Homo sapiens: one gene and its partner. The protein of the gene in region 1 interacts with the protein of each later gene in a biochemical or structural test. Each region holds a gene or a part of one and is shown in the gene's direction. Other genes may lie near its edges.

Region 1 (3,911 bases):
TGGGAGGTGTTGAGACCAGTTAGAGGGCCCTTAAAGTGTTCTGGAAGCAAGGTAATGATGACCTTGAGAGTGGAAAGGAGAAGACAGTCAAATAATGTTTTGGAGATAAAATATATAGAACTGTGGAGGCCAGGTGCGGTGGCTTACACTGGTAATCCCAGCACTTTGGGAGGCCGAGGCGGGTGGATCACCAGAGGTCAGGAGTTCAAGACTAGCCTGGCCAACATTGTGAAACCCCGTCTCTACTAAAAATACAACAATTAGCTGGGTGTGGTGGCGGGCATCTGTAATCCCAGCTATTCAGGAGGCTGAGGCAGGAGAATTGCTTGAACCCGGGAGGCGGAGGTTGCAGTGGGCTGAGATGGCACCAGTGCATTCCAACCTGGGTGACAGAGCGAGCTCCATCTAAAAAATAAATTAATTAATTAAATTAAATAACAGAAATTTATTCTCTCACAGTTCTGGAGGCTAGAAGTCTGAAATCAGGATGTCAACAGGGTTTGTTCCTTCTTGGAGGCTCAGAGGGAGAAATCTGTTTTATGTTTCTCTGCTAGCTTCTGGTGGTTGCCAGCAATCCTTGTCATTCCTTGGCTTGTAGACGTATTACTCCAGTCTCTGCCTCTGTTGTCCTCACATGTCGTCTTCCCTCTGTGTGCGTCCTTATCGGATTAAAGGCCCACCCTGTCCAGTATGATCTCATCTGAACTTATTACATCTGCAGTGACTCTGTTTTCAAATAAGGTCACATTTAGAGGTTTTGGGAAGGATATGAATTTTGAGGGGGACACCATTCAACCCAGTGCAGAAGGCTAGAGTTAGAAATATAGGATTCATTTGCACAGTGTGGATCTGGAATGCTGAAGGGAATGTGAGCTCACTGAAGGAGCGAATTAATGACAAAAGAAGTATGAGCTGACACAGGGTAGATGAGACACAAAAAACATTTAATATAAAAATAGGTAGATATAGATAAGGAGGCCTTTAGAAATGTGGGCTGAAGTATAGTTATTGAGTGGAACAACAGCTGGACCTGAAAGGGTAGGAATGGTAGGAAAGCTTTAGATAGGTAGAGCTAGGAAGAAACCCCTAGAAGCAGGGAGATTAATAGCTTGAGCAAAGGTGATGACCTATTTGGAGGTTAATGGGGTTGGAGCCGAAGGTGGGGGTCAACCAGGTGTATGGACCATCTTGACTGTATTAAGCAAAACATCACTTTTATTACGGGAGGTTTCAGCTTATACAAATGTAGGAGGAATATAATGAACCCCTGAGTACTTGTCGTTATTTTAGTAGCTGCTCTTTTTTTTCTATAAATTCTCCTCCTCTTCTCTCCGTCCCTTATTTTGAAGCAAATTTCAGACATTTTAGATTGTGCATTTTTGACTAGCCTGTATAACTGAGGGGTTTCTGAGAAGGTTTCTGAGCAGGTAAGGGATGTGATCAAAAGAAATGCAAAGACATAAGATTTTATTAGGAAAGCAATGAAAAGTAGAAGAGGGAGAGGGTTTAGTACATAATTGATTGTTTTCATCTTTTGTTATTTGATTAAAGGTGTGCAGGATTTCTGTTCCAGAAAGTTGGAAAACTTGCAGCAACTGCAGTAGGTGGTGGCTTTCTTCTTCTTCAGGTATGTCAGAGCTTTAAGCACTTGCCTTTGCTTTCATAGAAGGTGGAATTTTTCTTTTAGGCATCAGTTTATGGAAGAGCTACAATGAGTTTTGGAAGCTGACTTTTGTCTTGAAAGATAACAATTTAAATACTTCTGAGTTATTAAGCATAGTTTGATCCCAGCTATTAAAAAGACAGCCATTACCGAGCGCATTGGCTCACGCCTGTAATCCCAGCACTTTGGGAGGCAGAGGCAGGCAGATCCCTTGAGGTCAGATGTTCAAGACCAGCCTGGCCAACATGGTGAAATCCCGTCTCTACTGAAAATACAAAAATTAGCTGCCATGGTGGTGCACGCCTGTAGTAGTCCCAGCTACTTGGGAGGCTGAGACAGGAGAATTGCTTGAACCCAGGAAGCGGAGGTTGCAGTGAGCCGAGATCGTGCCATTGCACTCCCGCCTGGGCAACAAGAGCAAAACTCTGTCTCCAAACAAAACAAAACAAAACAAAAATCCATAATCTTATATCTGAGGCAGATAGATTTGAAGTTTTAGTTTTGTTCATATTCTTGTAAGTATAAGATCTAAAAATGCTTTGCCATTAGAGGATGTTTATCAGGGCATCATCTGGCATTCATGTCTGTTTGGCATGTATTTTTTCAAAAATATCATTCCTTGAAGATCAAATATAGTAAATCCAAAAATTGAAAATCTCTACGAATGAATGTGAGCAGCACTTTTAAAGATACAGAGAACTGTCACTTGTACTAGATTTTAAAAATGATTGATGTTCATAGCCACCAGAATCTGAATTCAGCACCTAAGCCATCGATCATGTAATAACTAGTGTAGTTGTAGTACAAGGGGACTAGATTTGTATGTATGAAGCACAGATTTTGAGTTGTTCACTAAACAGCCTTTTAAAAATATATATGTTTTCTTTCTTTTGGTGACATTATTACGAATAATTGCTTATTACTTGTGGTAAGAGGTAAAAAAAATGATTAATACCTAAATTTAGTTCTTTGGATGAATATGCCAGCATTAGTACAGATGATAATTTTACTTAAGCTGATTTTGACTTGGTTTTATATGGAATCAAGAGCATATTTTATTCCATAGCTATTTTGAAGACTCAGTTGTCATTTCTGTTAGTGTAAAAGGGTACTGGACTGAAGCAGAGTTTCCTAAAATGTTCACAGAATGGAGAGAAGTGTATATTTTAATCCACTCTGCATGTCAGTTTTTCAGAAGTCCATTTCAGTTCACTCAATATGCACCATTCAAATCCACATTTTGTCATTGCCACCTCCCACTTTTCCGCATTTAGTACACGTAGTCTTTGAAGTTTTTAAGGCAGAGCAACATAGGACCTATCTGCATCAAACCAGTTTTTCCCACAAATACGACTAACCTTGAAAACTCAGTAGAAGGAAAGTGAAAGGGGAAATAAAGTAACAAATGGCTTTTAGGCTAATTGCCTAATATTCTTTAGGCCCACTTTCATATTTTTATGACCTTTCTTATATTTAAAGGTAAATATTAGTTTATTTAGAACTTAAAGCTTTTCTAGTAACAATATCAAGTGTTTTCCAATAGATATTTATTACACTGCCATCTTAAAGTACACAGTCTCTTCGTTTTAATTTTTTGGAGTTATACATCCTTATAATTCAAAGGGCCAAGTACTTGTGCAAGGCTTGTTACAGATTAGAGTAATCCTCCACCTCTCTCACTACCCCCATTTTTCCATCCCTTGAGACATCCAGTTTGCACTCTTAACTGATTCTTAAGGTAGTAATCTCTTTTTCCCTAAACAAGTTAATTGGACATTTCTTGATCTTTCAGTTTTAGGTGTGAACTATTGGCTTCCCATTATGGAATGGGAAAATTTAGCTGTCATTTATTGACCTGTTTTGTTTTCCCTATACTTCCCCAAATCTCACATACCTGAATGCTTTCTTCCCTCTCCCTCAATCGTCTGAGTGTAGTTACTTCCCTTTTTTCATAATTGTGTTAGATCATTCATTATATGGAGTTCACTGAGATTGATTACTTGGAGTTCACTGAACTTCTTGAGCCTGTGAATTTATGTCTTTAATCATGTTTGGGAAGGTTTTGGCCATTATTTCTACTAGGAAGTTTGGGATTTTTTTTTTTTTTTTTTCGAGACAGAGTCTCGCTCTGTCGCCCAGGCTAGAGTGCAGTGGCGCAATCTTGGCTCACTGCAACTTCCACCTCCCGGATTCAAGTGATTTTCCTGCCTCAGCCTCCCAAGTAGCTGGGATTATAGACTACAGCTGC
Region 2 (3,911 bases), on another chromosome or scaffold:
TTTTGTTGCTAGGGAAGGGGAGGGGGCACTTGCAATTTGGCTCCCATCTGAAGCAGTTTCATTAGGCTGGGTCTCTGTTACCTGCTTATCACCATCAGGAGCTTGTGAAGACCCTCATGATCTCTTGGCTACTCCCACTCCAGAGTTGTTGCTCGATTGGAGGCAGAGTGCAGAAGAGGTGATTGTCAAGCTTCGTGTGGGAGTAGGTCCCCTGCAGCTGGAGGATGTAGATGCTGCTTTCACAGATACAGACTGTGTGGTGCGGTTTGCAGGTGTGTCCATCTGCCCTGAGCACAGTAGTATGTTTGAATCTTCTGATATCTCCTATCCTACCTCATGGACCCTGCTCTGTCCCCAGGTGGTCAGCAGTGGGGTGGTGTCTTCTATGCTGAGATAAAAAGCTCTTGTGCTAAAGTGCAAACCCGCAAGGGCAGTCTCCTGCACCTGACACTGCCCAAAAAGGTGCCTATGCTCACGTGGCCCTCCCTCCTGGTGAGTTCTAGTAGTACAGGGTTGGGTAGGGATACCAGTGTAGTCGACAGGGCCTGACTGCTGTATCTTTGGCAGAAGAAACCTCTAGGGACCCAGGAGCTGGTGCCGGGGCTGCGGTGCCAGGAGAATGGGCAGGAACTGTCTCCCATTGCCCTGGAGCCAGGCCCTGAGCCCCACCGGGCTAAGCAGGAGGCCCGGAACCAGAAGCGGGCCCAGGGCCGTGGTGAGGTAGGCGCAGGGGCTGGCCCCGGGGCCCAGGCAGGGCCCAGCGCCAAGAGGGCTGTGCATCTCTGCAGAGGGCCAGAGGGGGACGGGTCCAGGGATGACCCTGGACCCCGGGGTGATGCCCCACCCTTCGTGGCTGACCCAGCCACCCAGGTGAGAGCTGGGCACCTGTTTGGGTGTTAGGAGATGGGGGGAAAGGGTGTGCACTGGAGTGGGAGCCACCTGGCAGACCCAGGGCTGATTCTTTCCACAATCTTGCCATTAATAGGTTGAGGCTGATGAACAGCTTTGCATACCACCGCTGAACTCCCAAACCTGCCTCCTGGGCTCAGAGGAGAATTTAGCCCCTTTGGCAGGAGAGAAAGCAGTGCCTCCCGGGAATGACCCAGTCTCTCCAGCCATGGTCCGGAGCAGAAACCCTGGGAAAGATGACTGTGCCAAGGAGGAGATGGCAGTGGCAGCAGATGCTGCAACCTTGGTGGATGGTAAAGGTGGGGGTGGGCAGGCAGAGCCCTAGGTTGGGTTGCAAAGTTTGTAGGTGGATAGAGAGTAGCAATAGGCTGGAACCTGTCCTGGTTGGGGCTGAGCCATGGTCTCAATATAGAGCCCGAGTCGATGGTGAACCTGGCGTTTGTCAAGAATGACTCGTATGAGAAGGGCCCGGATTCAGTGGTGGTGCACGTGTACGTGAAGGAGATCTGCAGGGACACCTCAAGAGTACTTTTCCGTGAGCAGGACTTCACGCTCATCTTCCAGACCAGGTGGGTGGGTAGATGATGGGGCAAACAATGCCTCAGGTGGGACAGTATGTCTCATGCTCTTCCTCTTGTCCTTCCTCCTATCCTGCTGTGCCTCTGCAGGGATGGAAACTTCCTGAGGCTGCACCCGGGCTGTGGGCCCCACACCACCTTCCGTTGGCAGGTGAAGCTCAGGTGGGTGGTGCCCGGCCCCACCACTGTGCCTGTCCTACCCCGTGGGCTCCATCTCCCTGGCTCATCTATCCTGATGCTCATTCCTCCTAAGTCCCTGAGTTCAGCCTTTTCCCACAGGAATCTGATTGAGCCAGAGCAGTGCACCTTCTGTTTCACGGCTTCTCGCATCGACATCTGCCTTCGTAAGAGGCAGAGTCAGCGCTGGGGGGGCCTGGAGGCCCCGGCTGCACGAGGTCTGCACACGAGCTCCCTTCATTGCCCAGTTCCACGTGACCAGGACCCAAACCCCTGTCACATGCTGCTAACCACCAGCCCTCTCATTCCCCCTTTTTAAGGTGCAGTGGGTGGTGCAAAGGTTGCCGTGCCGACAGGTCCAACCCCTCTGGATTCAACCCCACCAGGAGGTGCTCCCCACCCCCTGACAGGCCAGGAGGAGGCCCGGGCTGTGGAGAAGGATAAATCCAAGGCACGATCTGAGGACACAGGGCTAGACAGTGTGGCAACCCGCACACCCATGGAGCATGTAACCCCAAAGCCAGAGACACACCTGGCCTCGGTGAGAATTCTGGGGTGGGAAGGACGAAGAATGGAGGCTGGAGAGTCTTGGGGCTGTTCTCTCATGTCGTCTTTGCTCCTGCAGCCCAAGCCTACATGCATGGTGCCTCCCATGCCCCACAGCCCAGTTAGTGGAGACAGCGTGGAGGAGGAGGAAGAGGAAGAGAAGAAGGTGTGTCTGCCAGGCTTCACTGGCCTTGTCAATTTAGGCAACACCTGCTTCATGAACAGCGTCATTCAGTCTCTGTCCAACACTCGGGAACTCCGGGACTTCTTCCATGGTGAGGGCAGGGCCTGGAGCCTGGGTTATGGGCAGAGAGAGTGCCTTTGTTCCTCACACCTTTGCTCGGCTACTATTCCTAGACCGCTCCTTTGAGGCTGAGATCAACTACAACAACCCACTAGGGACTGGTGGGCGTCTGGCCATTGGCTTTGCCGTGCTGCTTCGGGCGCTGTGGAAGGGCACCCACCATGCCTTCCAGCCTTCCAAGTTGAAGGTGATCTGTGACCACTGTCACCCTTGGCTGGAGGGGGCGGGGAGGGCCAGCCAGCTGGGTGTGCAGTGGGTGCTAGGGCTTCATGTTCACACCTTGGCTCCTGTATCCAGGCCATTGTGGCGAGTAAGGCCAGCCAGTTCACAGGCTATGCACAGCATGATGCCCAGGAGTTCATGGCTTTCCTGCTGGATGGGCTGCACGAGGACCTGAATCGCATTCAGAACAAGCCCTACACAGAGACCGTGGATTCAGATGGGCGGCCCGATGAGGTCAGGGTTAGGGACAGAGGGTGGGCATGTCTCATGAGCATCCCAGCCCCTGGTACTCTTTGGTTCTCACCACTCTGCCTCTCAGGTGGTAGCTGAGGAAGCATGGCAGCGGCACAAGATGAGGAATGACTCTTTCATCGTGGACCTATTTCAGGGGCAGTACAAGTCGAAGCTGGTGTGCCCTGTGTGTGCCAAGGTGTGATGGGCTCCCCTGGAAAGAGACCCCCTAGTTCAGCTCAGCTATTCTGGTCACATTAGGTTCAGAGGCATGTGCATCTTAAGGTGCTACAGGGCAAGGTTTGGGCAAAGAAGCTGGCAGGGAGGCCTTAGGATTCTATTTGGGCTGAAGAGCCCACTCAGGGTAGGCTTCCTGACTGAGGGAAAAGTGATGTTAGAGCTCAAAGGTGTTGTAGCAGGGTTGTGGGCACATGGGGTGCAAGTGTGAGGCCAATTCGTAAAGTGGCTAAGCTGAGTAGGGCTTTGAGTGCCAGAAAGAAGGATTGTTATTTCCTGGTGGTCCTCCTGCCCTGTCTAGTGTCCTGAAGCCTGAGAGTTTGCTGGTTGGCTGTGGGGGCCCTGAGAGCCATCAGAAGCCCCGGAATGGGCTCTCTGAGCATGAGCATCTTATCTCCCACTCTGTGTGCAGCTACCCAGTGCCACCTCTACATCCACAGGTCTCCATCACTTTTGACCCGTTTCTTTATCTGCCGGTGCCCTTGCCACAAAAGCAAAAGGTTCTCCCTGTCTTTTATTTTGCCCGAGAGCCCCACAGCAAGCCCATCAAGGTGAGGAGTAAGCCCCTACCCTCTGGGCTGTTCTAGAGAACGTGGCCCACCTCCCTCACTGACTGCCCTTTTTGCCACAGTTCCTGGTGAGCGTCAGCAAGGAGAACTCCACTGCGAGCGAAGTATTGGACTCCCTCTCTCAGAGTGTTCATGTGA

Evidence for each region.
Region 2: the proteins of FUNDC1 (region 1) and USP19 form a complex in vitro, tested with the Homo sapiens proteins (one study listed by BioGRID).

Annotation. Positions count from the first base shown.
Region 1 is NC_000023.11:44,536,183-44,540,093, reverse strand, and holds part of FUNDC1 (FUN14 domain-containing protein 1), read left to right. Parts: intron 1-1,551; coding exon 1,552-1,627; intron 1,628-3,911. UniProt on the Homo sapiens protein: Integral mitochondrial outer-membrane protein that mediates the formation of mitochondria-associated endoplasmic reticulum membranes (MAMs).
Region 2 is NC_000003.12:49,114,018-49,117,928, reverse strand, and holds part of USP19 (ubiquitin carboxyl-terminal hydrolase 19), read left to right. Parts: intron 1-98; coding exon 99-272; intron 273-358; coding exon 359-492; intron 493-567; coding exon 568-870; intron 871-985; coding exon 986-1,202; coding exon of another isoform or gene 1,203-1,208; intron 1,209-1,321; coding exon 1,322-1,478; intron 1,479-1,577; coding exon 1,578-1,649; intron 1,650-1,766; coding exon 1,767-1,882; intron 1,883-1,984; coding exon 1,985-2,205; intron 2,206-2,289; coding exon 2,290-2,485; intron 2,486-2,567; coding exon 2,568-2,701; intron 2,702-2,811; coding exon 2,812-2,970; intron 2,971-3,055; coding exon 3,056-3,166; intron 3,167-3,644; coding exon 3,645-3,755; intron 3,756-3,835; coding exon 3,836-3,911. UniProt on the Homo sapiens protein: Deubiquitinating enzyme that regulates the degradation of various proteins by removing ubiquitin moieties, thereby preventing their proteasomal degradation. Stabilizes RNF123, which promotes CDKN1B degradation and contributes to cell proliferation.